Regions from separate parts of the Homo sapiens genome. Here all the other regions are linked to region 3. Evidence: fine-mapped expression QTL. A gene starts in region 3. Each other region holds a variant in brackets. All regions are shown on one strand. Distances are between the middles of the regions. Region 1 holds the start of FAM170B (family with sequence similarity 170 member B). Region 2 overlaps VSTM4 (V-set and transmembrane domain containing 4). Region 3 holds the start of VSTM4 (V-set and transmembrane domain containing 4).

Evidence for each region. PIP is the estimated chance that this variant, and not a neighbour inherited with it, causes the effect.
Region 1: its variant is fine-mapped to the expression of VSTM4 in NK cells (Schmiedel 2018, PIP 0.95).
Region 2: its variant is fine-mapped to the expression of VSTM4 in tibial nerve (GTEx, PIP 0.96).

Annotation. Positions count from the first base shown.
Region 1 is chr10:49,130,430-49,140,584 of GRCh38, forward strand. FAM170B (family with sequence similarity 170 member B) reads right to left here and starts at 3,592. Exons shown (of 2, transcript NM_001164484.2): 1 at 3,378-3,592; 2 at 725-1,923. The coding sequence starts at 3,489. The coding sequence ends at 1,184. It overlaps FAM170B-AS1 (FAM170B antisense RNA 1), which reads left to right. Exons shown (of 6, transcript NR_038973.1): 2 at 5,227-5,652. The variant C/G (reference allele first, on the strand shown) is at 5,809.
Region 2 is chr10:49,084,078-49,094,232 of GRCh38, forward strand. VSTM4 (V-set and transmembrane domain containing 4) reads right to left here. Exons shown (of 8, transcript NM_001031746.5): 3 at 1,878-1,946. Among named protein-coding and RNA genes, the nearest start is that of VSTM4, 26 kb to the right of the region's middle. The variant G/T (reference allele first, on the strand shown) is at 5,690.
Region 3 is chr10:49,111,531-49,121,685 of GRCh38, forward strand. It overlaps VSTM4 (V-set and transmembrane domain containing 4), which reads right to left and starts at 3,992. Exons shown (of 8, transcript NM_001031746.5): 1 at 3,901-3,992. The coding sequence starts at 3,955. It overlaps LOC124902545 (a long non-coding RNA gene), which reads right to left and starts at 9,931. Exons shown (of 2, transcript XR_007062371.1): 1 at 9,673-9,931; 2 at 8,586-9,578.

The sequences.
Region 1 (10,155 bases), 19 kb after region 3:
CTGTTTCTTCTCCTCACAGCCTTGTTCCTGTCTAGCTCAGTGATTCTCAACCAGGGGTGATTTTGTCCCTAGGGAACATCTGTTAATTTCTGAAGACATTTGTGATTTTCACAACTGTGGGGCAGGGGATGCTGCTGGAATCGGATGGGTAGAGGCCAGGGATGCCAGTAAACATCTTGCAGCAGACAGGACAGCCCCCGCGGCAAATAATTAGCATGCAGGGTCAACAGTGCTGGTTGAGGAACCCTGGTCTAGCTTTTCCTTTAAGCCCCCGGGAGCATCATCTTTTTTGGAAAGTTCTTTATCCTGATCAAACAGCTTGAACTTGGGGCCCCTCATCTAGGCTCCCCAAACCTCCTTGATGTCATTCATCCCCTTGCCTTGCAATTGCCCATTCTAACTGTCTCTCACTGGAAGCAACAGAGGCTGGACTATGTCTTCCATCAGCATCTCAAACACACAGTGGTCCACAATTAATTTTTCTTGAATGAACACAGCCCCCTGAGACAGGGAGAAGGATGAAGATGAATTTCATGGCACCATTTAAAAATGTATAGTTGACATAGATGAACTCATAGGTCAGAAGGACATCCCCAGCCTCCTGCTCTACCTTGAGAAGCTGCCTGTCTCCAGGTGTTTCTGCTAGTTTGTAACCTATGGAAATGGCAACTTCCCATGTGTCCAATATGACAGCATGGTTCACTCAGTTAGTCACTGCATTCAATTTTGTGTTATTCAAGTTTAATCCCAATAACATAAGACATAGAACTAGGGCATATGACAGATTTGTAATAGTGAAAAAAATAGGGCTGGAGAGTAATTTGCAGTTGGCTGTCCTGTGACCCACATATACTTAGCAAGTGTGGACCTGCCTGATCCACCGGCAAAAATAGAAATCCCTCTGGCCATGCGTTTGTGGGTTTCAGATGTTGTGCCTGCCATCAGAAACACTCAAAGCCCTCTCGTTTGGGTTTTGAAATGGACTCTGGTGGAGATGCTGTGCCTAGGGCAGGAAGGGGGTTCCTTCCAGTCTCCTGGCCCTCCTTGCTCTACACTCCATGCCTTTCCTTCCCCCTGACCCTGGTCCTCTCTCCCTGCCCTAGTGGCTCTGATACTGCTGGCTGGGGAAGGAGCAGTCCCAGGCCCTGGAGGTGAGGGCAGGGTTGGGTATCTCCCCTCTGGCTCACTGCTTCTCCTGCTGCTGTGCTGAGAGCACCTCACCCTGGGGCCGGGAACATTCGCTGTTGTCTGAAGGACTCTGCTCCTCCTCCAGCTGTTGGTCATGTGCTTGGCCCTGAGCCCGCCTTCTCTCCAGCATCTCCTCAAAAAAGATCTGACAGCTGAAGCCCTCCCGGATGCCATGCTGGGCGTGCTCCAGCAGAGCGTCCAGGGAGGGCAAGACCCTGCAGCAGGCCACGCAGCGCACCCCGTAGTTGGTGGTGACCAGCCAGTCCGGCGGCTCCCGCAGCTCCTGCAGGCAGCACTCCAGCAGGTCTATGTCCTCGGGCTCGGGGCTGCAGTTGCTCTTGCAGGCTTCCAGGTCCCAGCGCATATCGGTGTTGGAAGCCATTTCGAAGGAGGAGCCGTTCCACCTCTGCCTCTTGATGAACTGGGCTTCATGGATGCGGGGCTTCCTGGTGACCGGCTCGAAGCCGGCCTCCGTCTCCCAGGCCACAGCCACACCCCGCACAGTCTGCACGTGCGTGTAGAAGGCACACACACTCTGCGGAGCAGCATTGTCCTCATCGCACATGCAGGAGCAGCACGACTGGTACTGGGAGTAGGACTGGTACTCGGAGGACTCTGAGGATGGGGAGCTGCTCCAGTCCCGCATCCCCCGGTCCCTGGCAGCGAAGTAGAGGCCCTCCTCCCGGGGAATGGCAGGCCCCGGCCGTGGGGACGACCCTTCTCTCTGTATAGTCCCTGAGAAGCAGAAGGACATTGTCATCAGTGCCCTTTAAGGGATCAATGCCACATCTACCTTCAGGAGCCGCAGACTCTGAAAGGGTACAGGCTCTGGGAGCTCTTGAGCAAACACCGCCCCCTCTGCCCATTTCCTGAAAAAATGAAGATGGTGATAATGCCTGCTTCATAGGGTGTGGTAATGATTGAATAATGTATGAATGCAATCACCAAATCCTTGACTCAACTGAGAAAGACCATTAAATGGTGAATAACAGAGTTATATACACATTAGGGATATGATGATAAGGATCAAATAATGTATTAGAGTAATCACCAAGCAAAAGACCATCAACTGGGGAATAGGTAAGCTGACTGAGGTGTATCCATATGATGCAACCTGTTAAATCCATGAACCACTGAGACGTGCAACAATACGGATGAATCCTGAATGCATTATGCTAAATAAAAGAAGCCAATTAAAAAGGCCATGTAGTCATAAGAGAATGTGAACAAAAAAAAAAAAGAGTCCATGTCGTATATGATTTTATTCAGATGACATTCTAGAAAAGGCAAATTTTTAGCAACAGAGAACAGCTCAGTGGTTGCCCAGAGCTGGGGACGGGGTGAGAGGAGACTGGTCATAATAAGGCACAAGGGGACTTTTAGGGGTTTTGAAAAATCTTCTTTATCATGACTGTGTTGGTGGTTCCACAAATGTACATGTGTCAAACTTCTTTAAATTGTGCATTTAAAATTGCTGAAGTCTGTGTGCATAAAAGACACCTCAGTAAAGCCCATTTAAAAAACAACACATGCAAAGTGCCTTGGCCAAGCCACCCAGACCCACCATCCTCTTCAACATTTGTGACCTGTCTTCACCTTCCCGAGGGGGCATCTCACTATCTCCTTCAACACTTACTGTGTCCCTCTTGCCATGGAAGTGCTTGCCAAGTTTAATATTCAAAACAACCCTAAGAAATTATATTGTTAGGATTCCCATTCAACAGAGTAGGAAAGAGAGGCATGGAGTTTGAATGAGTGGTGGAGCCATTGGGCCCCCAGAGCTGGTGTGACACTTAGGTGCTGCCCACAGACACGTCCCCGCGGTCTTCAAATTGATGTTCTAGATTAACTTTCATCATTTTGTTATAAAGGAATTTTTTATTTCACTGCTGAAATCACAGGATGGACGTGTTGTTTTCTCAAATACACATTAAAATAAATACATAATTATAAACATTTTACATTTTCATTCTCATATCCCCTGAAAACACCTTATATACTCATAACAGCCTCAGTCACACCAAGTGTCCCATAAATATCAATTTCCTTTCCCTCCACATCTATGTTTATGGTCAACACAACCATTTGGTAACAGTATCAGGAGGCAACCTGGCACTGTCCCTTCCCATCAGGGCTTCCTTCCCAGGGAGCACAGCTGGCTGACCTTCCAGGCCTTTCTTTTCACCTACCTGGCCAGAACACTTCCACACTCTCCTCAGTGGACTCAGGGCTGGTCAAGCTGAGGGTGGTCCCATCGGTGGGTGACTGTTCTCCCCTGTGATCTGTGAAGTAGCATTTCATGATTTGAAATGAGTGCCCAGGGTGTCGGTGCTCCAGCTGTTCAGTGAGAGTTGGCTGGGGCTGTACTGAAGGCCTCCAGCTGGCCCCAGCCAGAGTGGACACTGAGCTCCCCATGGTCGCTAAGATCCTAGCTCTACTGTGTGACCTCATCGATGGCACTGGTCTGTTCTGTGACCCATGGCGAGGGCAGAGGCTGAGGCTGGATACCAGGAGAGGCTTCCCAACATGTTCTCATTTCCCCATGGGAACTCCTTTTCTGTCTTGTGTATTATCATGGACACACAGAAACACAAAACACACATACTCTTAACTCCTTAGACACACATAAAAACACAAACACATAAACACAGAGACACTTGTATACACTTAAGCATGCATGGAACCGCTGTCTTAGTCCATCTGTGTGGCTTACAAAGGGATACCTGAGGTTGGGTAATTTATAAAAGAAAGAAGTGTATTGGGCTCATGTTTCTGCAGCCTGTACACAAAGCATAGTGCCAGCATCTGCTTCTGGTGAGGGCCTTAGGAAGCTTCCATTCTCAGCAAATGGGGAAGGGGAGCAGGTGTGTTTAGATCACATGGGTAAGAGAGGAAGGAAGAAAGAGTGGAGGAAGTGACAGGCTCTTTTCAACACTCAGTTCTCACAGAACTAAGAGTGAGAACTCTTTACCACGAGGGTGGCACTGAGCCCTTCATGAGGGATTTGTCCCCGTCACCCAAACACCTCCCTCTACGCCCACCTCTCACATTGGATATCAAATTTCAACATGAGATTTGAAGGGGACACATGTCCATACTATGTCACTCACACACAAAGAAACGCATACATGATCACTCAGACACACATATACGCTGGAACACATATGGCACACACAGTAACATAAACATATGTACGTGTGTTCACATAGACACATAACATGCTCACACATACAAATTCACACACATATTTACTTAACCACACACACATACATGCACACAAATTCATGCCAGATTAATTAACCATACATAGGCTCACATACATACAGTCAGCAGCCAACATAAAATGACCCTGCTTCCCAGTGTGGAAAATCTCTCCTTCTCTCCCCCATCTTACGTCCCCACGCTGACCCTGTTTAGCTCCTCAACCCTCCACAACCCCACCCCACCCCTCCCCTCCCCTCTCCTCTACTCACTCCCTTGCTCAGTTCCTGTGACTCCAGACACTTCACTGCTCCCGGACATGCCCGGCATCCTCCCCTCACGGGCTCTGGGCTCTCGCACTTGCTCTTCCTTGTGCCTGTTCCAGGCTTTCCCCTAGGTTCCTGTGTGGCTCTCTCTCCTTCCGGTCTCCTCTGAAACATCACCTGGTCAGAGGAGCCTGCCTGGCACCCCCAGGAAAAGAGCTTTCTTTGGCCCTACAACTCTCTGTCACCTTACCCTGCTTTATTTTTCCATGATAGCATTTACCACCCTAGGCTGTATATAATGTCTGTGTGTGTATCTCATGGGTTTACCTGTATCTGTCTTCTCCTCCTTAGATGTAAGCTTAGGCAGGTAGGGACTTCCTTCGTTCCATCCACCTCATTATATCTCTAGTGTCTAGATCAATGTTTTACATATTAACAAGCACTCAGGAAATAATGAGTAAATAGCTGATGAACACGTTGGGCTGAAAAAGGCGTTACTCCCTCTGGGAGCTGCCTCCTCTGTGCTCCCTGGATCTCTGCAGTTCCAGGGTGGTTGGTTCTCTCCCACTAGGACTCTGGGAGTTGCCTCTTCCTTCTCCATTTGCACAAACCACGCTTCAGCCTCAATCAGCCTGATAAAATGTTCACCTGCCATCTCTCTGCTCTGCAACACGCTGGCACTTCACTCATTTCCTCCAACAAGCTTCTTACCACTTCCCTCTGTGGCTAATCTCTTCCCACCCTTGGTCAGTCTCATCAACTCTATTCCTTTGAATCCCAAATACTAAACAGTTCAGATAGGTGATGGATTGAAAATAATCCCAATATTCCACAAGCAACATCAACATCCCCCACACACCCAGCACCGAGGAATACCCTCCTCTCTAGAATGTGAGGCCACTGTGTGGAGGAAGACACCACGGTGCTCTACTGAGCCATGAAAGTCACGCCTGACCTAAACAGAAGACTACGTCCCCTGGCTAAAAGAGGAAATAGTGTAAGTGCACCCTTTTTTAACAAATAAATACAAAGACTTGCCTTACAAAAACAAGAGGGGGCAGCCAGCACAGAAAATAAGTAGGTCATTGGGGGATGGAAGGCAGTTCAGAGAGAGATGACATCATGGAGAATTGTTAAGCGGCAAAGTAAACAG[C/G]AAGTCTGGGAGGAAAGGAGACTCAGCCAACAAATTATGCTGAAAAATTATATTCGCTATTTTTTTGAATCAACTTTGGTCTCACTTCATGTAAAACAATTAAGAATATTTTCATAATGGTTCAGAGCTTACGCTTTAATGAAAAATGTGTAGAAAGAAAATATGTTAACATTTGTAATTACAAGGTGCTTTTTCTCAACTTAAACAATATTAGTCTTCGCAAGCATTGAGAAACTTTGTCATCTTTTCTAATTTCACTGCTTTAAAAAACTCACTGTTTCAATTTGCATTCCTCTGCTTTTCAGTGGAACTGGAAAAAAAAGCAAATGAGCAAGCAGTTTCCAGGGGAAGAAATGCAGAGGGATGATAAATATATGAGAAGATGTTGAGTCCTACTGTAATAAGGGAGCTACAACTTAAAAATGTGTAGTATACAGTATAGCACTTTTCACCCATGAGATAGGTAAGAGTTAAAAAGATGGACAATACCCAGTGCTGGTGAGGACGTAAGGAAATGAACACTTTTATTCTCTGTTGGAACAGTGTACCTTAACTTTCTCAAAAAGTTTGGTGGTACCCATTAGAATTAAAAGTGGGCAGGCACTTCCTAAGCAGTTTACTATCATCTCTTTCCTAGGGAACAGCCACATTACATGATATGTGCATAAAATAGCACCTAGAGAAATATTTATTGCAGCATTGTGTATAATAGAAATAAAGACAGGAGACTTTCCTAAGATCCATCAAAATAAAGAAACTACAACATAATCAAACTGTGGAATACTACACCACGATAAAAAGAAAGAGATCTATACATACTGATAAGTGAATTCATGTTAAATGAAAACACAAGATACAAGGAATAGATAGATGACCCCACCTATGTAAAAATCAAACATACTCCCTCAAAAGCACTGACCAAATTCTATATTGTCTATGTATCAAAAGGCACAGAGGAGATCTGAAAATAATCACACCCAAGAGAAAACAGTGTTGACCTCAAGAAAGAGGAAAAAGATTAGGTGGGGCTGTGTGAGACCAAATTTTCCAAAGATGGCCAAACCAATCTATATCACAACCCACATGCTCTTCTGATAACACGACAGCGTCCTTCTTCCTGAACTGGGGTGGATTTTGTAACTGCCTCAATCAACAGAATGCACAGGAGTGATGTTTTGTGACTGTCAGTGCCAGATCATAAAAGATGTGACTTCCTCCTGGTTCTGTCTCCCTTCTCCTTTGGACTCAGCCACTATGTTGTGAGGAAGCCTAGGCCACATGGAGAGGCCACATAGATGTGTTCCAGGCAGCAGCCCCAGCAAAGGTCTCAATCAACCACCATATGTGTGAGTGAAGGAACCTTCAGATAATTTTGCTTCCCAGACTTCAAGTCTTTCAGCTGGGGTCCAAGACATCACAAGGCAGAGACAAGCCCTCCTGGAATTCCCCACCCACCGTGAGCATAAGAAAACTGTGAGCATAAGAAAAGGTGTTTTACACACTAGTTTCTGGGGCAATTTGTTACAGGGCATGGTAATTCAATGGACTTTGATTTTCCCTTGTAATATTTAAATATGTTCTAGTGAGCTAGTTCGTTAACCAGCATCTGTGCTCTGTGCTTCTTCCTGGCCCAGTCAGGGAAACCTGGGGGCCAGGTGAGCCCTGTGGTTTTCCCAGGACAACTTGGGAGGATGGTTCCCATTCTTACCCCATAGGAAACAACTTACTAGATTGCAATGTTTATATACGGTTGCTTTTGTAAAGGCAAAAGCTTTACAATTTGGGATCCAAACGATGTTTTCCAAAGTCCCTTGAGTCGGGTCTTTCTTTACCCAGAATCTATATACGTTCTTCCTAATCCTCTCAAAAATTATACACTGTGAACCCTCCTTAGAGATAGGGAGCTTGGCACTTCAGAGGGGTTTGATGAACCTTGGGTGGGAAAGCTGGGAGAGAAGTGGCTTCCATCTCACGCCTGGGGGCAGGGCTGCATGGCCAGGTTGCTCTGATGTTTCCTATGGGCTACTTCCCTGGGGCTAGTTTGGAGTGAAGCCCCTCAGATGGTGAGCGATTGTCCTCCTCACTCACATGGCCTCTGGCTGTTTCCGTCTATGGGAAGAGCCTCTGCCCCAGCCGCTCTGCTTGCTCCATGCAGATGTTCAGCTGAGACCACCCACAAAGGGCTCCCACCCATCCCCCTGCCACTCTCCAGTGGGTTTTCCAGCCCTGCCAGGAACCTCTGCGCCTCACTGCTGCAGCCAGCAGGGCTGGTGTGCAAACCCCCAAAAGGACCAACGCAGCACTTTCTTGGAGCTCTGACGCCTGGCCAGCTCATTGCACACATTGCATGCGAGCCCTAAACCTCATCCAAGAGGCCTGGAATATTTTCTACTCTTAACTTTTCTTCCAAAACCTACTCTTCCCAGCCTCTGTTTTTCCCAGCTGAGGAGGCTAACAGGAAATAAAGTGGCCACAGCCACAGCAGGAAGCAGAGAGGCCATGTCTCTCTTCACTTCTAATTCCAGAGCTTGGCTTGCGCCCCAATCTGGGCTGTGGGGAGAATCACATCATTCATTCTGGGGTCCATGGGAGTCCAGAAATAATCTGTCCATTTGGCCAAGGGGTGGTGCTTCGGTCTTAATCATGGCATTTCTGTGGCTAGAGCCACTGTGTAAAGGTGTTGCAAACGGGCAATGATCCTGCTCTTCTCTCCACACCGAAAGTGGGGCCCCTCTAAGGGGGCAGGTGCCTTGCCACCCTCCCAAAGTTATCCTATTATCAGATTTAACACCCGAGGGCAGGGGAGAAGTGGGAAGCTGCCCGGATGCTGCGCAGCAGGTTTGCATGGAGTGGGGTTGGTGGTGTTCAGAGTGGGAATTTTTCCCAGTGAAGGTCAGTCCTCAGGGCTTAGGGATGACCTCATTGTGTGCTTGGGCTGCAGAGAAAGTGCCAAAAGCTATCAGACAAACTGAGAAGTGGGGTAGGGAAGTACTATCTTTTGGGTTTATTTTCTGTTGCTTCTTGTAACTATTTTAAAAGAAGTGAGTCAGTGGACCACAGAAGGCTCAGCTCAGCCACAGGGAAATGTAATCCGGAGGACTCTTCTTCAGCTCCCCCAAGCAAATAGGAAAGGGAGTTTTGCTTTTGTTTTTCTTTAGACATAATAACAGGCTGCTCCTTTGGTGGGTTTGTTTGGCGCTGTCTCGGGTTTTGGCCTTCACCTCAGAGTGCCCACACAAATAGCCAAGGCCTTCCCTCTCATCAGGGAACCAGGAGGGGGCTGGTCCCTGGGGCTGGGTCCTCAGTCATGGCATGGCTGTGCTCCAGGCCCCAGAGCCCCACCTGGCCTGGAGCCTGCTGCATTTTGCTCAGCTCTGGCCCAGCAGGGCTGTGAATGTTCAACAAGGTTGTGGGATGCAGAAGTGTCTTCTTCCAACACACGCTTCCTTGGAAGGGCAGCTTCAGCTGAGAGGAAAGACTCCTTGCTGGATGCCATGCACGTGACCCAGGATCCCAGGATCCCACAGGATCCCAGCACTGGCCACATCCTGTGTATGTTCTTGGAGAGCCATGGTGGGAGCTCTAGGGAAAGGGGTCTTCTCTCTCTCTATGTCCAAAATGGGCTGGCCACAGGCCACGCTGGACACAGCCCTCAGGAGCCATTCCTGTCTTCTACTGGGCCAGCTTTCCTGCAGCATGGCACAGCTCTGACTTGGAGGGTGAGACTCGGGGACTCAGAGGCCGACAGTGAGTCACCTTGATGTCTAAGTGTGTGAGGGTGAGAACCCAGGACCCAGAGGCTGACAGTGAGTCACCTTGACGTCAAAGTGTGCTGTGCTTGATTCCATGTTCCTTTTAGCCCACATCCAAGACTAATGGATGTCTGTGGCTGGAAAGCAGAAAATATGTTCACAGAAAACTCCTGAGCAGAGCTGGGATGACTTATTTTAATCCCCACAATTGGAATAGCTATTTCAAAGGCATGGCTGAAGATGCTTCTTCCCAGCCTGTCCTGCAGAGAGATGATGCAGTTGTTTAATGGATAATCCCAGTGTCCTGAGGAGGCCAGCAACTGTCCCTTCTCCCGCACAGCACCCAAAGTCTTGAATGGATCCCTGGCCCTCCTGGAATAAAGTATGCATAGGGTGGAGAACTTCTGGGAAGGTTGGATCAGGCCATGTCAAATTCCCACAGGAAAATTCCCAAGAAAGGCCCCAGGCCAAGGCTTAGCAGCCAGAGGGGAAGCAGTCCATTCAGTCATGCCCCCCTGCAGTGCAGTGAGACTGGCTGGACATTGGCTGGGACATTGGTTTCCAACACCCCATCTGCCATCCCCACCACACCTCC
Region 2 (10,155 bases), 27 kb before region 3:
CATGGGGCAAACATCAATGGGGTTGCCTCAATTTTACTAAATAGTAATGAGAAAGGTAAACCTTGCCCTTACTACTGCTTCACTCTATGAGAAGTAAAGTCATTTTCATTTCTTTGCCAATGCCAATGAGTAGGCATTCTCTTAATGAGAGGCTGAGTGGGAGAAATGGGGATTATTTTACTAGGAGGCAGTCATCAAATAAAGAAAAAGGCAACTACAAAAATGCAGAGAAACATCAGGAAATACAAAGAATCACTGTTGGATTCTCATGAGTGCAATCTCATAAACAAAATATTTATGACTACAAAACAAAACAATTAATCCTAGAGGCCTATGTGGGTGACACCTTATGGTCTGCAAACGATGTTCACAATAAAAGTTACATTTTCCTAAGACAGAATGTGTTTCAGTCTACTGCTTTATAACTAGGCATTGGAAGGGGTGAGCTTGAAAGCAAGTACTTGCTCCCTAAGGATGGCCCTCCTTCTGCCAGATCATACAATGGGTTAACAAAGGGTGACAGTAAGGCCTCAAGACATGTGCCTCTCCTTAGAGACTTTTGGCTAGATCATTCCTCATCAATAAATGTTGTACCATCACCAGACATAATCTTTACAAAGTTCCTGACCACCTTTGAACATTAATCAGCCTTTCACTGATCCAAAGCTCTGCCAGAGAACTCACAAAGTGCATTCTTTAATTGCTTATGATCATAATCCTCACCCACTTTATGATAATAATTTCTCCGAACTTTCCTTACTCCAAGACAGGGTTTTCCAACCTCAGCACTCTGGATACTTGGAGCCAAAATTCTTTGTCATGGGGACTATCCTGTGTATTGTAGGATTGGCATCATCCTTGGCCCCTGCCACTAGATGCCAGGAGTACCCCCAAAAGCTGTGACAACCAAAGATACATGCAGACATTGGCAACTGTACCCTGGAGTAGCAAAAGTCACCCACTGTTGAGAACCCCTGCCCTAAGGCCCAAACCTGAATGTGCATCAGAATTGCCTGGATGTCTTGTTAAACCCCGGATTTCTTGGGCACCATCCCTAGAATTTCTGATTCTATAAGCTAGGGCAGGGCACAGCCATGTGCATTTGGAACAAGCTCCCAGGTGATGCATATGCTGCCGGTCTGCAATCACACTTTGGGAACCACTGTTCCAAGGCCATGGTTCTCAGCCTGGCTGCATGCTGCAATCATCTGGGGAGCTTTTAACAACTTCCAATTAAATCAGAATCTCTAGAGATGTGGTCCAGGCATTCATGTTCTTAACATTCCATGAGTGATTCTAGCATGGGTTGAAAATTACTTGGTTAAGGATTGCAAACTGTTTCTAGAACCCCAAACTCCTTAAGCAACCTGAAATAAAATGTAGTCACAGTAGAGGTACTTATCATTTTTATATCACTTGAAGATTCGTCCCTAATATCACCTGGGAGTAGGAATTCTGGAGCAAAACAAAACAAACAAAAATTATGTGGACTGGTGCTTTAACTTCCACTCTTTCAAAACTGTGGGCTGATACTGTCAGGGATTTCCATCTCACTTTGAGTAAGTTTAGACCAAGAAAACAACTTAAAAACTAAGAAGTTAGGGTCCTTTCTTTATATTCTGTTTCCTTCCTATTGTCTAAAAGTGAGGCTGCATCTTATCGTGGGGTGGGGGAAAGGGGGAGGGATGGCATTAGGAGATATACCTAATGTAAATGACGAGTTAATGGGTGCAGCACACCAATGTGGCACATGCATATATATGTAACAAACCTGCACGTTGTGCACATGTACCCTAGAACTTAAAGTATAATTTAAAAAAAAAGAAAAAGAAAAAGCAACTATAGAGCAATAAAAAAAAGAAATATACAAGCTTTACCTTCAAAAAATGCCCAAGTCTCTTTTGTTTTCTCAAAGGATGACTCTTCAGAAGCTTTGAGGGAAATGACTGAAAGACAAAAAAGAAACAGCACAGTATGAAAAAATAATGCCACATGGTACACATGGCACTTACATTTACAAAGCAATTTCTACATTTGCAAAACCACATTTAGTTGTCAAAACTCACATGTTAGGGAGGGGTGCAAGGACTTTACCTAACAGTTGGGAAACAAGGGGCACAGGAGAGGTTGAAGTTAAGTCATCCATGTTTAAAAGCCAGTAAATGGCAAGCTCAGGATGCAGTTCAGTAAAAGCCCCACTTGCCCCATAGACTTGAAAAATAAGAAGTTCCCAGTGGCAAACCCAATAATTAATACATGATTTATTTTACCATTTTAGTGGGAATCTTTCTAAAATGTAGTGTACTTGTCCCAGTATTCCTGGATAGAGGAACCTGAAGTCATCAGATGACTCAAGGTTAGTGCTCTGAGCACCATTCTCCATGCAAGACAGACCCACAGAGCCACAGGCATCTAATTGTGAGAACATTTTGTCTTCTTTCAGGTAATGGTAGATCACTGAATTCATTTTGCCTGCTTTCAACAGGCAGGGAAACAGAATTGAGTTACACTGTGTGAAACTTTGAACATCACATTAAAGGAGTCTGGGCCCACGGAAAGTTTCCATGTACAGGGGTAACATCATCATAGGTAAAGATCTAGAAAACAGACTGATGAAAAATGTAAAATATCACGGAATGAGATTATTGTTCAATAGAACCTTCTGAAGTTATTGAAATGTTCTATATCTGCACTGTCCAATACAGCAGCCACTGGACACATGTGGCTACTGAATACTTTAAATGCAGCCAGTCTTACCAAATAACTGAATTTTTACTTTTATTTAAGTTTAATTAATTTACCCAGCTACATGTGCTCAGGGGTTACCACAACGAAGAGCTCTAGACAAGAGAATCTAGGACCAGAATTGAATGGAGATAGAATCAACAAAAGAGACAAGAAATACGGCAAAGATGGCCTAGAACTTAAATTCGATTTACTGCCTCTCCCACAAACTTTTGTATTATTATTGTCATGATCTCAATTCTGAATTTTCCTTCCTTTTGTCTCTCTGGGCCTTGCACTGGATATTTCCTATTGACATATCTTCCAAATCATTAATTTTCTCTTCATCTGTGTTTAACCTTCTGTACAACCCTTCTATTAAGTTCTTAATTGCATTTATTCTTTTTATTCAGTTCTATATTATTTGTTTAATTCTTTTGTAGATATCTCAGTTCTCTAATGAATTTCTCTAGGTTGTCATCTAATTCTGCGACCATATCAATCATATTATTTTAATGTCTATGCCTGATAAACTTTCATATTTGCACTTCCCATAGACTCCTTTCTGTTATCTGTTTTTGCTTTAGATCTTGTCTGTTGGAATGCCTGATAACTTTTTTCTAATTGAATGCCAGACATTGTATATAGAAAATCTTGGTGACTCTAGATAAAATTTTGGTTCCCTGATAGGAAGTTAGAGTAGGGGGATGGTCACTTTAATCCAATCAGGGTTTGAACTGTTGAGAGGCTTTCAGTTTTTATAGAATCCGCTCTATTTCTGGTTTGCCCTTACTCAGGGTTCATTCGGTCCTTCAGGGTTCCCCAGCAAAAATCCTGGGGTATTTACCACAACCTCCCAATTTTTATCTCACTGTTAGAACTGCCAAAAACTAACTCACCTCCTAAACATACTGGTTGTCACTTTCTCCATAGCTTCTCTCAACTAGCACTGCTTAAGTATGAGTGAGTTTCTTAGAGTTAAACGTCTCCAGCAATTGGGCTCACTTTGCTGCTTTTCTCTGTGATCTAACTACCTATCTAGTCCTTCAGATAACAATTAAGATAGTTGGATATATATGCACATATATATAATTATATATGTTATATATGTATATATATACATATGTAATATATATGTATATATACATATGTAATATATATGTGTATATATACATATGTAATATATATGTGTATATACACATGTAATATATGTATATATACATATATATGTAATTATATAATACAAATATATTTATGAAATGTAGATATGTGAATCAGAAAGCAGAAGTGCTGATAGACTTTATTTTCAGTTTTCCTAATTGTTCTCAGGAGGAGGGCTTTGCTCTGCTGAGAGGTTGCCTTGATCACAGAACTCCTTTGCCATTAGAACTTAAATTATTTAAAAAGTAGTGGCTATATCTTCTACCTCTGTATTCCTATCACTGGGCACATTGCCTGGCAGCTGATAGGTGCTTGGTAAAATATATGAATTATATATTTCTTTCTGACTTCCTCCCAAAGGAAGCAACCTGGACCTCCAGGAAGGAGCTCTTAGTGAATATCTGACCTTGCATGTGATCTAAGATACATCAGACAATTTGTCCATCACACCCAACCTCCTTGACCTGCTCAATACCCATAGCCCCTGTAATCTACTGACTGCCAGATTCCCCCTTCAAACACTTAAAATAAGAAACAGAGTGCATGTGGTTATTGTGAGCCCTGAGATTGAAAGAGCCAGTGGATTTTGTGGGTGGCCATGTTGGAAAACAAGTGAGCAGAATGGAGCGGAGCCTAGAACCTGCATAGCAGAGGGAAGATGAGAGGCCAAAGCTTGATGGCACTCTGGGCCCCACAAGGCCTGGCATGTTGTATTTACTCTCTTTGCATTCCAAGAGCTTTGCACCCTTAGACTGTGCCCACTTCTCTCCTGAAAAAGCTTGGCTGGATTTCCATGGCTTCAGCTAATCAAGCCTAGATAAGGATAAGAAGGTCCTGATGAAGACAACACGGAGATGAACAATACACATATATCTTCAAGGAGCTTGGTTTCCAGGAGGCCAAGGATACCCATCATGGTGTGGACCCTTACCACCCCACATGTGGTCCACGGGCCAGCAATGTCAGTGTCACCCGGGAGCTCCTCAGAAATGCAGAATGGCAGGCCCCATGCCGGATCTACTGAATCAGAATCTGCTTTCAAGCCCAAATCCCCTGGGTGAAATGTATGCCTTTTAAAATTTGGCAAACACATGCTCACAGGGTTGAAAGACTCAATTGCCACTTGCTAGTTTTATGTCCTTGGATAAGTCACTTAATTTTCCTGTGCCTTATTTTACCCATTTGTAAAATGGGGATGATGAGAAATGCCCATGTCAGAGTAGATGCAGGGGTTAAAGGGGTTCATGTGTGTGAAGTGCTCAGAACAGTGCCTGAGACCTACTGAGCCCATATCCACACTAGCTGTCTAAGTACAGGGACTTTCACTTGTTTTATTCACTGCTCTAACCTCCACCCCCGCCAACCTCAGAATGGCCCTTTGTTGTCAGTCCTTTGCCTCAGGGGGTGACTCTTCAATCTCTACACCTTGAATGAGCTGCTGCCATTCTAACCAACAGGTGCCTTCGGGTCATTTTTTATGCAACTTTCAGGGTCAGAAATTGTGGGTCCTTGATTTAATCCAATTACAGTTCCCTTTCCCTTATTTAGGATAGAAAGCAACAAGCTCTCCCTAATCTATTTATGGACACATGTGTTGAAAGAGCTAACAAACTGGGATTCTAAACTAACCCTATGCAAGGAATCACTGGATGCTCCTCACTCCCCCGCAGTGCAGATATTTCACAGGACGGTGCAGCAACTTTGGCATCTGATTATTAGAAACACCAGTCCTAATCTTACTTGTTCCTACAAGAAAGAAAAATTTTTACATGGACCCTGCCAGATCTTCGGGAATTTTCCCAAG[G/T]TTCTCCCATAAGTATCTTGTTGCAGCTGCTAATCCTGTGCTATCTCAAAGTGAATTTGATATATTGTCAAGCCAGGGGTCTGAGTCCACAGACTATGAGGAAACAGAGCTGTGGGATGCAGCCAGGCCAACAGCAAGGGCTGTGTAGTGGACAATCAGCAGGTCTCCTGACTCCACAAATACTCTGCCCTCCTCAGCACAGCTGTGAGCAGCTAATATAAATTCACCTTGGTCAACCTTCAAGTGTGGAGTGGAAGAGGCCCCAGCAGGGTAGATGGGCTTGAAGAGGATGGAATGCTTTGAGAAAAAATTTGGCAAGACTAAGGAACAAGTGGCAAATGTTCCAACCACAGATTACTAATGTTGCTCAAAGACTTGTGGAAATAAAATGCAAATCTCCTGATGGAAGAGCATTTTTGTAACAGTTTCCAATGAGTTCAGCAATCAGAAGGCTGGAGCCTTAAGCAAGAGTCAATCAATCTATCCCATTCTGCCGTACTGGGCTCACCTTGGGATCCAGCTGGACTTCCAGACAATTGGAAAGAAGATGACAACAGCCTCTTGTACCAATTTGCTGACTCTTCCTATGCACCAGCTCAAAGGAATGGAGGTCCTGCCCTCCTGACAGCTGCTCATGATTAAAGGAGTGCCCAGCCCAATCCCCCAAAGAGGAAAGCAAGTGCATGACAGTCAGCTGGTGAGCCAGACAATGGTCCTATAGGGTCCTGATGGTGGACTCTGCTGCTCTGTGCTCAGGTTTTCATGATAGGGAGGAGAAATGAGACTTCCATCCCTTCCCAGGAAGGTGCAGGACTGGAATGATGCTGCCCCTCTCTGCCCTCTCATCTGCATTCACCACCTCCCTCACCCCTGGTGGACAAGGAAAAGCTCCTGATCCAGGTGAGCTTCTGACCACAGCCCCCCTCTGGGTGATAGGAATGTGGTAAAGAACTTTTTCCAAGTAGACTCTGTCCTGCCCTGTGCTCTGAGACTGGTCTCCCAGCAAATAGCTGGCATGGGGGCAAATGCTGTGGGGCCCCTTGGGACAGTCTCATCACCCCAGCTGCTGGGAGTGACACCAGCCCTGCCTCTCACGGAGCCCCACCTGTGACCACTCCTGCACACACTCCTCTACCATCCGTCCTGTGTCCAGGGAGACCATGACAAGGGCAGTGCAAGGACCCTGACCTCCTGCTCCCACAGTGCACAGGCATGTAGTCCCCATGCTGGGGTGGGGGGTGGGGAAAGGCGAACAGGCAGGACAACTGTTCAGGGAAGTAGAAGGAAGCCCAATTTGATCTCAGTGCCAAGCCACCTATCTCAGTACAGCTGTTATCGGAACTAAAGTGGGTTTTTATATCTGATGGGTCAGGTCTCACAGTGGAGGGAGGGGTGATGAGTGCTCAGAAGCTAAATTGTCAGCTGACCTACTGACTGCTTTGTCATTGCCTTGGGACCCTAGCACCCAATGGGCAGAGCCCATGAGAGTTTCCGGGGAGGCAGTGGCCCAGATGACAGAGCTACAGGCCACTCTGGGGCCTCCCCAGGAGCACAGAATAGGATGAAATCTAATAAGGGACAAGTTGTGAAATCCATCACGTCACTGCCCCTCTGTTGAAGAAAGTGGCCACAGGATCAAACAGTCAGGAAGAATGCAGCCCAGAGGTACTGAGACAAACCGATTCTATCAACTGCATGTCTAGAGGAAGCAGGCTGGAAAGAAAGAGCCTCAGTCAAGTCCCCTTTGATGGGACCTGGGGGGAAACCATCACTCAGAGAGGTGTGAAAACCGAGAGCCCTAATTCCTGCCTTGGAAAGAACACCCTGCCAACTTCCCTGGGGAGGGCATGTTTCACAGGTGAGTTCACACCAAGACCCTGTGACAATGCCCTCTGGGTGCCAAGGGGCCTCTGGTTCTTTCGGGGTCCCCCATTCACCAAGGACGCTGACATGCTTTGTCTAGACTGACCTTACTCACCCACGGAAGTGATGGCCAAAAATTCCGAGAGGTCCTGGGAAGGCTCCATTTTTCCTGAAATTCTCTCCCACTGGCGCCCCTAATTCCTTTAACAAAGAATCTTACAATTAACAAAGCTTAAATTGCAACTCTAGGCTATATCCAAAGTCAGGTGCACATTTCTGACACGGAAAGCCTTCCAGAACGCAGGATTCGATGGAGAGGAAAGTGGTGGGGCCCTGGCGGGCCAAGAGGAAGAACGAGGCAGGAGGGAGCAGGAGCCAGGATGCAGGGAAGGCAGGCAGCTGGGCTCAGGAGACATGCCTTCCCTTTCCGTGCCTACCCTGGCCAGGGTAGCTGAAGCCTTCTCCCAGACTCTACAGATCTTGTCCTTAGCAGGTGCTGCCTTCCTTAGTGCTCTAAAGCCATATTTTTAAACTTTACTGTGCAGAAGAATCAACTGGGCTCTTATTAAAACGAAGACTCCCAGGCATTGCCCCTGAGTTTCTGAGAGGGTTTGGGACTCTGCCTGAAGAGGGAGTTCACCTCTCAGGAAATTCTGAGGCTCCAGGCCCGAGGACCCTACTTGGAGAGTCTCTGTCATGTGCACTCCTAGAAGAAAGACTGAGTACAAGGAGATGTGGGAGAGGAGAGTCCTGCTGTGAGAAACCAGGCCCTGGGCCTCAGTGTCCTGTCCAATCCAGGAGAGGGTTTAGAACTCAAAACTAAACCAATGCCTCTTCTATTTAATCTAGGGAAAACAAGAGTAATAAGGATAAGGAGTGATCCTGCCACAGAAGTGTTATCTACAAAGTGATACGGGAGTGCTGGGAAGAGAAGAGTATGGTCCCTTTGAACAATATGGAAAGGGGAAGGGGCGTGCTGGGTAGAGGAGGGCGTGGTCCCTGGCTAGGGCTCCACCTCCACGGACCTAGGTGAGGACAGGCATTTCCTGCCCAAATATTGCATTTCCCAAGACCACTCTGGCCTGCCACGCCCCCATCCTGGGCCTATAAAAAGTTGAGAACCTAGCAAGGCAGAGACAGACGCAGTCAGACATCGAGAGGAGCACGTCACCGGAAGAAGACGCAAGCGGCTTGGTAGTCCAGAGAACATGGAGCAGATTATGCCAGCAGAAGAGCACACAGACAGGCACTGGTATGTAGGCAGGACATCGACCAGTGGGACCAGGCACCAGGCAGAGTTTGGCCGAGGCAGTCAGAAGAGAGCTGGGGCCACAGAGCAGCCCAACTCCAGGGGAAAACCGTCTCCCTTCTACCTCCCCCATTGACTGGGAGCTACTTGTACTCAATAAAACTTGGAGAATAAGATATTCTCCAAGCGCACATGTGATCTGATTCTTCCAGTACACCAAGGCACGAACCCGGGATACAGAAAGCCCTCTGTCCTTGAGACTAGGTGGAGGGTCTTAATTGAGCTACAGGCAGCCTATAGTCGGCAAAATAAGAGAGCACCCCATAACACATGCCCACTGGGGCTTCAGGAGTTATAAACATTCACCCCTGGACACTGCCGTGGGGTCGGAGCCCCACAGCTCCTGCCCATCTGTATGCTTCCCTAAAGGTTTGAGCAGCAGGGCACCAAAGAAGCCAGCCACACCCCTATCGCATGCACTGGTAGGGGGACAAGGGAACTTTTCCCGTTTCAAAAGGACCCTGAAAGAGCACCTTTTAATAGCATGTCTCAATGTAGAAAATGATGTGCAGAACACAGCTTTCAAGAAACAATGATTTTTAAAAGAGCAGAACATGTGTAAGGATGGACGTGTCTTCCCAAGGAGTCAACTGCCTGTCTTGGAAACTGGAGACAATTTGAATTGAAGCCTTCCTCCAGTGGTGATCTAATGTTTCACACCCTTCCTCTCTCTATGGAATGTGTGGCTTTAAAATCCATCACTGTGCACCAGACCATGCCTTATTCTACCTTGTTCATTATCTGTGTCTGTTTTCTTCACTTTCTAGAATCCTTCTTGGCCCATAGTTCAAGTCATAGTTACTCTTTTTTTTTTTTTTTTTTTTTTTGAGATGGAGTCTTGCTTCGTCGCCCAGGCTGGAGTGCAGTGGCAAGATCTAGGTTCGCTGCAAGCTCCTCTTCCCGGGTTCACGCCGTCCTCCTGCCTCAGCCTCCCAAGTAGCTGGGACCACAGGTGCCTGCCATAACGCCCAGCTAATTTTTTGTATTTTTAGTAGAGATGGGGTTTCACCATGTTAGCCAGGATAGTCTTGATCTCCTGACCTCGCGATCCACCCACCTCGGCCTCCCAAAGTGCTGGGATTACAGGCGTTAGCCACGGTGCCCGGCCGTCATAGTTACTCTTAATGAATGAATGAAATGAACGTGATACAGTGGGGTAAGTACACCTTACCAGGACTATGACATTGTTACTTTCCGGAAAGCTAGGAGAGGGGCCAGGGTCAGGGGGTCCCACCCTGCCCAGCAACAGTCCTTCCCCTGGAGCCTCAGAAGCAGTGGGGTTGCGCCAGCACAC
Region 3 (10,155 bases):
GCAGATCCTCCCTCTCCTGGCCTAGGAAGGATTGCCAAAGTCACTCAGGCCCGAAGAAGAAATTAATTTCTTGTTTTGTGACCCTGTGTTGCGGAGAATTGAGGTGGGAGGGAGACGCATCGTCCCCCTCCCCGTTGTACCTCTCCACTCACAGTTCCTGCTTCCTCCAGCTTAAGCCTCATGCAGCAGGCATGTTGTGAAGAAGAAAACAACATTCCTGACCTTGTGCAGTGGACAGTCCAGTGGGTAAGGCAGCCACTCATTGGGGAAAAGACATGGGAGAATATAACTACAGTGTCACATGCCACAGAGAAAAGTGCAGGGTTTAAGAAAATCATGGCAAGATCCTGATCTAGACTTCGGGGTCAGGGGAAGGGACTCTGGGGATGTGAGCTTGAGCTAAAGACTCACTTGCAGCTAATGAAATAAAGTTCAAGGCAGCAACAAGGAATGATTTCCAAGGAGGGAGCCCCACCTCTGCAAATGTTGTGAGGCAAGAGGGACCCTGTACAGGCTGGAAATGGAAAGGTCAGTTCATCCTGGTGAACTGTACCCCACTGTGGCCCAACAGCCACCCTTGCCAACACATGATCCTCAGAAGGCATTCCCTACCCCAGTCAGGTTCCCCAAGGCCACTTTTTGAAGGAGGAATATAACAAAACTGATAGGGAAGAGACTGATACAAACAGAGGGACAGGATTCCTGCTGCAGCAAATCCCAGTCTCCAACAAGCACATGCTCTGGGACTTGGTAGTCCTGGGCACCACATGGGCTAAGCACTGGATGTTTATGGTCCCAGGCCTTCTCTGGTAGTTGCAGAGAAACGATGAGACACAGAAGCAGTGGCTTGGTGGGGCTGGGTAGAGAGCCAGGGGCTGGCATCTGACAGAACCAGGCCGGAAACCTGATTCTGTTAGGTGTGAGCCTCCTGGAGTTTCAGTTTCCTCATCCGAAAAATGGGAAAAGGATGCCTTTCACAGTAAGCATAGGCTCCAATGCAAAAGCACCCTTAAAATACAGATAGAGTTTGCATGCCCTGAGACTGGGGAGGTGGGAGCAATAGAAAGTGACATGCACACTGTCCTGTGAGTACAGTGGGCTTCGTGGGCCCACGACCTGCAGGCACACAGGACCCCATGGTTGGAAGTCCTCACACCCCAACATGGTTTAATCTCTGCTGTTGCTATCTTGAAATTTTAATACATTTTAACAAGGAGGCCCACATTTTCATTTGACACTGGATCCCACAAGCGATGTAGCTGGTTATGTTTGTAGACGAATCTCAAATTCCTGTGGATAAAAGTTAAGGTGTCTAACCCCCTTGCTTATATTTGAATAATGTCATGAAAAGGACTAACACCACTCTGAAAACAGCCTAGGACACCGTTGTAGCTGAATAGAACAACCTACTCATTGTGAAGTGGGAGATGGCCACTTCCAGGTGAGGGAGTAAGGACAACTAACAGAACAAGGCAGCAGCCTCATCTGGGATGCAGAGGTGGGCACAGTCCCTCGGTTCTGAGCAGGCCAGGGATGTGCTCGTAGCTGTGTGCCTCCCACTTCCTCTCTGCCTGAAGAAACTGCACCTGCTCACTTCAGGGAGACCAGAGCCTCTAAGTTTATAAGGAATGCAAACTGTCAGTACTGATCAGCAGCAGTGAGCTTTCTTATTAAAAGAATAGTCTGAATTCATACAGCTAAATCTCTGAAAGAAATAGTTATATTACTTAACAGTCTTTGGCACCAGGAGCCAGTATTTACTGAGCACTAAGCAGAGGTGATGCCAGACCTAGCCCATGGACTGATTCACTCACATTAGCCTATCACCTGAAAATAGCTCCATCCAGGATAAAAATATCACCTTGCCCAATGATAGAGGCTAATACCTGCCGGGTACAAACTCTATGCCCTTTAGATGTATTTTCTCAATTTATCCTGATACTCTGTTTATTCCCATTTTATAGACAAGAGGACTGAGGTACAGAGAGGCTAAGCCCTTGTTCAAGCTCACATAGTAAGTGGCAGAGCTGGAATTCGAACCTAGGCCATCTTGCTTCAAAGACAGCTCAGCCACCTCTCAAGCCTACAGATTTGCTATCGTAAATATATTGTCTGTCAGTTTTCTTTCCTGTAAAATGAGACATGGGACCAGGTGACCACTAGGGTCCTGGTCAGTCCCAAAATGGAGAGGCAGAAAAGTACAGCAGTTAAGAAGCTGTACTTATGTATAAAATGGGTCTGCCAGCCCCTCCCAGCAGGATCGTGGTGAGGAGTCATGAATGAGGCACTTAGAAAAGTGGGTGGCACACAGTGAGTGTCCCACAAGCAGGAGCTCTTATCATCCTCCAGGGCTGACCATGGGCACAGCCAGGGCAGACTCTAAAGGCTCCTGAATTCCAGCTCTCAAGGCTCCCGAGGGCTCTGGAAATGTGAGAATGCCCTTGATCCCCAGCAAAAGACAATCTCTGGGACACCCACTCTGACAGCTCCTGCAATTAGAAGGTGGTCATGGAGCCTGGGAGAGGAAGGACCACTGGCTGCTGGCTACTCCACAGAGACCACGAGAACTGGCCCTGCCCACCAGTCCAAGGCAAACTTCTCATCATTTTTCCAGCCGAGACAGTGACAACTGGGAAAAGGTACATTTCCCGCAGCAAGGATTTCAGGTTCACTGGGAACCTGGCTGCACTCATAGCTGGGGGACAGTAGATGGATTTCTTCCCACTGTTATCCAAGTGCCTCCTCCTCAGACTGGGATCTATGGATTAATGCTGGCTCAAATGCCAGCTCTACACTTGGTAGCCAGATCACTCTTGGAAAATGACTTCTGAGCATCAGTTTCCTAATTTTCAAAACAATGGCAACACAGTTTAGTGGTTATTGACAGAGCCCAGAGCCAGGCTAACTGGGTTCAAATCCCAGCTCCACCACTTACAAGCCTACTGAATTAAGGCAAGTCCGTTCATGGGCCTGAGCCTCAGTTTCCTCATCTATAAAATAGGGATAATAATAGCACCTCCTTCAGAGGTTATTGGTGAGATTAACCAAGTTCATGTTTTTTTTTTTTAATACTTGGATATATAAACGTGTTGTAGTCATTATTACTTGGAAGTGTTGTAATTAAATGAGATAGGCCCAGATAGGCACCCAGGGAAAGTGACCATCGATACCTGTATTATTACTATTATTCCAGCCAGTACGGCCCCTGCTGCCCTGAGGCAGCCAGACAGAGTTCTGGGGAATAAAGAGGGAAAATTCTTAAGACACTTACAAGTGGGAGCAGTAAAACCCGAATGAAAGCCATTAGTGTGGACCAAGAAGTTGTCCTCAAAGCAGGGTGCTGGTGGAGAGGCGTCGCTGCATCCAGCCGTGGATGCCCCTCTCACCAGGCCTGGTCACCTCAAAAGGCCCACGATCAAGTCCCCGTTCCCCACCTCCTGGCCAAGGCAGATCCAGCCGCTCCTGACTTGTCTTCGGAGTAACTCTCCGAAGAGAGTGAAAGGGAAGTTGCTGCTCCGAGGAATCTGCCAAGAGCTGTGTGTCCTGACTGCCGTGGAAAAAAGGAAAGCGAACCACCAACTTGGGCTGCGCTCCTGCTGCATCTCCCCTCGGGGCCTGCCGCTGGGAAGATCTCGGCTGCTGCGAGAGTACCCAGCCCCAGGCGAGGTCGGGACGGGGACCGCGCTCACGGGAGGCGTCCTCTGAACCTTGGGGAGGCGCCGCTGCGCCCGCCAGACCCTCGGCGAGCCCACCGGAGCGCGCTGGCGACAGTGACAGCGCCGCCCCCCGCCCGCGCCCGGAGGTGGCAGGGCCTCCCCACCAGGCCCGGAGCCCCGGCCTCCCCGGCGCGGCCGCCCGGCCCCCACCCTTCCCGCTCCCGCCTGGCCCCGCCGCGCTTACCCGGAGCCGGAGCCCGCGCCAGCAGCGCGGCCGCCGCCAGTGCCAGCAGCCGCATCTCCCCGCCGCCGCCCGGCGCTGTGACGCGGGAGAGCGCCGCCGCCTGGCCCGGCCGCCGCCAGCCCGCCCCGGGCCCGCGCTCGCGCCCGCCCCCGGCCCGCCCCTTGGGCCGCCTGCCACGCGGGGCCGGGGCTGCTGGGTCCCGAGGCCCGCACCGGGCGCGGGAGCCGCCGCGCGATCGGTTCGCTCCAGGATCTGTGGCGTCTCCTTTCAACAGCCCCATTTCCCAGATGAGAAAACTGAGTTTCTGCAAGGTGATCGCTGGTGACTCACAGAACACACAGCTGCAGTGCGACCGGCGGTCCTCTGCCCACAGATGCACTTATTCCTAAGGGAAGGCGGGATCTGGGAGCCAGGGGGTGGGGGCGCGTCCAGGGAACCTCTGGCCTGAGACTCACCTGCTGGTCGTGGGCCTCCTGCGCTCACTCCACAGGACCCTCGGGAGCCAACAAGCAGCTGAGGGGGGAGAAGCCCCTTCTGCTGCCCTGAAATGGAGGGCGGGGTCCGAGGTGCTAACCCTTGGAAAACTGAGAGGGTCCACACAGACCAGCCCAGAATATGTGGAAACTATTAACAAAAGTGCCCATTTACAGTGCCTCAGCCAGGCCTGGGCTAAAGTGATTTTCCAGATGCTACTGAACCCCGCCGCGGTCAGGCCTGGGACAGTTCTGTAATCTCCATGTGCCTCAGTTTCCTGCACCTGTAAAATGGGGAAATGGGCCCACCCCTTCTGGGGTGTTTAGGAAGACCAAGTTACACCATTCCCATTAACGCATTGCCCCAGCACCCGATTCACGGGTGTCAGTGAACACTACTATTATTACTATACATAAGGAAGCAGAAGCAGCCACATGAAAGAGACCCATGTCACACAACCACAGAGCCCTGTCACTCTGAGCCAATGCCTGGTCTCTTTGCCACTGTTCTAAACTTAGGGTCTGAGCCTAACCCATCTCCAAGCAAGAAAAGCACATGTTAGGTCTATTCTGTGTGTGTCTATCAGGAGAGGTCTTTGTGGAGTTCCAGTGAGGGGTAGCAGCAGCTAGCAGGTGGGCCCTGGTTGGGAGTGGGTCCCTGTAGGAGGAGGAGGAGACAGGGCCCTCATCTCCTTCCCTCTAAGGGAGTGAGGAGGTGTGGGTGGCATGGAAAGAGGGTGCAGCCCACTAGTGTGAGCCCCAGGGCATTCCCCAGAGGGACCATCCTCTTCAGGCACCCCAGGCCAGTGGGTGCAAAGGCTCTGTGACATCTCTGAACCCCAGGCACTTCCAGAGGTCTCTGGACCCCATGGGATCCTCCAGCTAGGAGACTCATCTGTGGACCAGGGCCCTGCAGGGACTGGACTGACCATCAAGGCAGCCAGGCTGGAGAAAGCAGCCCCATCTATAATTTGGGTTGGTGGAAGGGCCTGAGGACCCGATAGTGAGTTGGCAACAAAGGTACTTGGCTATGATGCCAAGGACAAGAAGTGAGGACTAGAACTGGGGTCAGATGGACTCCTGCAGCCCAGGAATGCAAACTAGAACCAAGTGAGGCTTCCAGACCAGAGTTTGGAAACCAATTTTATACATGAGCAAACGAGCCTCACGTCCCATCCACATAATGTCCTAGGCCTCATTTTACAAATTAGTAAATTCAGGCTCAAAGAAGACCAGGGACCCGTACAAGGTTCTGTGGGGCACCAAATGTCTGAACTGGGAACTTGGACTCTGACTGCAGACTGTTGACTCAGCCCTGGAGCCTGGGGCAGTGTTTGGCAGACTGAGGGAGGATGTCTGAAGAGGAGCACTGGTTCTGAAAGTGGATCTGTGACCCGCTCTGGCTGGGCAACAACCTTGGGTCCTGGAGCAGCACAACCTCTCTGAATTTCATTTGTCAAGTGAAGGTGACACATGTAAAATGGCGTCTTGACATGGCTGTACTAAGAGCAGCTAGAGATGTGGCAGGGCCATTTGGTATCCTTGGTAACCTCCCACCTCAACCTGCTGGTCTCAATTTACTCTCCCAGTTGGTGAAAAGCAGAAGGGACCCCTTAGATGTGTCAGCCACCCTTGGAGGAGGCAACTCCTGCTTTGGTCGTTGTATATTGCTAAATATCCAACTCTCATTGCAAAACAGAGCAGAAATTCAGCCTGCCACCCTTGACTTGCTTCGTCTTTACCAAACTGGGGTTGTGCCAAAGATTTGAGGCTAGAAAGTGCTTTTCTTGTACTTTTCTGCTACAGGTAACATTGTGCTGATTTTACAGCTGTGTGCACTGCTGGTACTTTTCAGCTTCCCATATAATCTAACTGATCATCCTGGTAAAACCTTTGCTGCATGAACACAGGAACAAGGGAATATACTCAGCCCTCATGGGAGACAGAGCCAGTGACCCGGATAAGACTTGGCCTTTCAGCTCTTCTGGACTACATTGGCAAAGGCCTTCCAAATGGTTTTCTTAGCTCTGCTGCCTGCTCACTCATTCACAAGCTTAGGACCATTTGAAAATCCTTCACAGGCTTCTTTGTCCATACCTTGGCTCTATCAGGTCTTACTTTGTACTGAATTGGAAGAATAATACAATCCAATTCTATTTTTTGTTTACCTCATAAGAAGAGGGTGTTCAAACCATTCTAAAGTTGATCCAGATTCCTGTGGACACTAAGCTATATGGAGAGCCTACTCAACTAATCCTGTATTCTACCAGTTGCCACTGAAAGAATCTTAGAAATCCAGATTTTCTCCAACAAGTGCATTCTGCTATCACCTGGCAGGCCGGGGCTTTTCCTCTTTCATTATCCAATTGTTTGTTAGAACCTGGGTCAGAGATGGAAGAGTACAGCATGGTTTTGTAATGGACCTTGCACACAGCAAATATATCCCTAAACTAAGACCATCAAGCAAAACGAAACACCCCTCTTCTAAGGTGTTTAGCAGATTTCCAAGTGTTACTTTTTCAGTCTAGGTTTCTAAAAGTAATTTTGAATATTTGCTCCTCCCTATTGTTCACAGGCATTTTACAGCTAAAAGCAGTCAGCTACATGCTTGAATTGCCACTAAAAGAGAGTTCACTCTAGAGAAAAGCAGTTATCAGCTGTGACTGAGAGAGCAGGGAAAGGATAAGAAAGAGGAGAGATCGTGGTTACAGACAATGCAGCCATCCAATCAGAAAGATATGCCTAAGGCCCCTGGGGCAGAGTTTACATGAAACCTTCAGCACCGTCTTCTCCCTGCACAACTGGGGAAGGAGTATGGACTACACTGTTTTTCCCGAAATGTACAGAAATGTGAAGCTATAGGCCTGACAGGATGTCTAGATAGAAATAGCTTCTAACCAACCTCATTGGTGACCCCAATAGAGGGACGTGATTGTGAGCTGATGCCAAGGGCTCTGCAGGCCGGCTGGATGCAGCAACCTGGACCAGCTCCCAGGAAACGGAAAGACATGGCCCCAGATTCCTAGAAGGCTCCAGATGGAGGTGATTGAAATGAGGGAGGGACTAGGAACCAAACAGATGTCTATAAAACTGACCACAAAGAAAACATCTTAGAACTGACCACTGATGTATAAGACTAAAAATCTCAGTCTATGCCTTCTACTTTTATTGAACATTCAGTGAGCAAAAGACAGACTGAAGAACTGTTCAGAGTAAAAGAGGTTAAAAAGACTTATCAACTAAGTGAAACGTATGATCCTAGATCCTTGATGTGGGATCAGGAAAAAAATGCTAAAAAGGACATTATTGGTATGACTGGCAAATGGACTATATTGTATACTACATACATTTCCTGAGCATGATTATGAAAGAGAATGCCTTTACACTTGTTCTTAGGCGATCCACACTGAAGTATCTGGTGTTAATAGAATGACTGTAAATTACTCTTAAATGGTTCAGCAAAAATAACAAGTTTATCTATAATATGTATTGTATAATATATATATGGAAAGAGAGAGAGACACAGGGAGAGAGAGGCAAATGGGAAAGTCAGTAGATCTAGATAAAGAGCATATGGAATTCATTGTACTATTCTTGCAACTTCTGTAAGTTTTCATTTTTTTCGAAGTAAAACTTAAAACTAAAACTTGTTTATTACTTTTATGATATCTCAGTGTTTTTATATATATGCTGCTCATAGGCATCATGTAATTATTGATCAGTATCATACATATTACATTATTTCATCTATTGTAAGGTACTATTAATTATAAATTGCTTCCTCCCCATGTCAAAGATGTTACAGTAAATGCAGTTCTGATGTTTTGTGAATCCAAGCAGAAGACTTAGGCTTCAGGAAAATTCCCATTCTGCATTCTTAATAACTTAGAAATAAGGGAATAAGACCTCTGTAAGTCCTCTACAGAGACACAAAGACTCCCAGCTTGGAGCAAGTCTAGACTAAAAGTGTTAGAGAAGCAATGGATTGTAACCAAAGTCTAGTATGAGCTGGTCTGACACACGTGGCAGTTTGACTCCTGTGGAGGTAAAGGCATCAAGCTCTATCAGCATGCGACTCCTGTAAGGCTCTGACTCACTTCCCAGCCCTTGGCATGAGAGCCCATCACCCATCAGGAGAATCTGAATGGCATTCAGTTCCATATTCACAGAAGAGGCAAATCGGTTTCACAAACACCCATAGTCACATTAAACTAATGTTGTTAGTTTGAGTTTTATTGCTGTTTGCAATTGTGTTTAATTTACACATTTGGTTTTTGTTTTGCACTTGTAAAGCAACTATAAGCTTAGCTGTTTGTGTTTGTGCTGCTTTATTTCCACAGCAATAACTGAAGTCAAGGCAGGGTCCATAGGAATGTTTCTTGGCCTTTGAAAAGAATAGTAGTCAAGTTTGCCAAACATTGCTTTAGGGAATTCTCACTCTCTTTTCCCAAGACTGATGGCACCCCAGCTCAGTAGTCCTTGAGGGTGTGCTTGGAGGGACTGCAGTAAGTCCAGCAGCAGATGGTACATAAATCCTCAGGAGTCAGGAGTCATTTGTGAGCCTCTTCACAGGGTCCTTGTGCTTGGCCCGAGCTAGGTGTTAGCATGGCCCAGTGCAGAGCAGCAGGTAACACACACACACACACACACACACACACACACACACACACAAATGTATGCACACACATGCACACATGAGCTCTGGCTTCTGGTACCCAGGCTGTGGGCTGTAGACCTGACATTTTCATGAATCTCTTTACTCTGTCTTTTCTAAAGCTCAGCACATCCTCTTTGTCCCTGTGCCCAGCTCATTTTTCTGTGGGACCTTCTGGTCACAGGGAGGGAAGCATTTGAGGCTGAAAGTAGCACCACATCCCCACACGCCTGACTCTTTCTGCAAAACCTTCTGACATGTGCCCACATCACCCTCTGTGCTCAGGCCAGAGACCACCCTGTGTTCACCAAAAGTGAGTTGCTTGCTCCCAAATGTATTTATGCTATTACCAGCATTTACATCAACAAATGTGGACAGAGTGCTCACCACGTGCTTGTGCCCCTAAGGACCCCACCTGGGAAGCCTCCCTACCTGAAATGTGGACCTCCCTGAGCCTTTGTGGCTGCTGTCTTCCTGTCTCTGTCTCCTGCTCTTCAGAATCTATATTCATTTTTTCAGGTTGCCGTAATCCACAGGCCAGGTGGCTTAAACTATAAAAAACGTATTGTCTCACAGTTCTGTGACACAGTTGGAGATCAAGGTGTCACTGGGTTGGTTTCTTCTGAGCTTCTTTTTTCCACTCACAGATGCCATCTTCTCCTTGTGTCTTCATGCAGTCTTCTCTCTGTGTGTGCCTGGGTCCTAATCTCCTCTTCTTATAAAGACTCTGGTCATATTGGATTAGGCACTCCCATATGAATTTACCTCTTTAAAAGCCTTAACTCCAAATACAGTCACATTTTGAGGTGCTAGGGATTAGGATTCAACATATGATTTTTTGAGACAGAGTTTCGCTCTGTCACCCAGGCAGGAGTGCAGTGGCATGATCTCAGCTCACTGCAACCTCCGCCTCCCAGGTTCAAGTGATTCTCCCACCTCAGCCTCCCAAGTAGCTGGGACTACAGGCACCCACCACCATGCCCAGCTAATTTTTGTATTTTTAGTAGAGATGGGGTTTCGCCATGTTGGCCAGGCTAGTCTCAAACTCCTGACCTCAAGTGATCCGCCCACCTCGGCCTCCCAGAGTGCTGGGATTACAGGCGTGAGCCACCATGCCCAGCCCTCAAC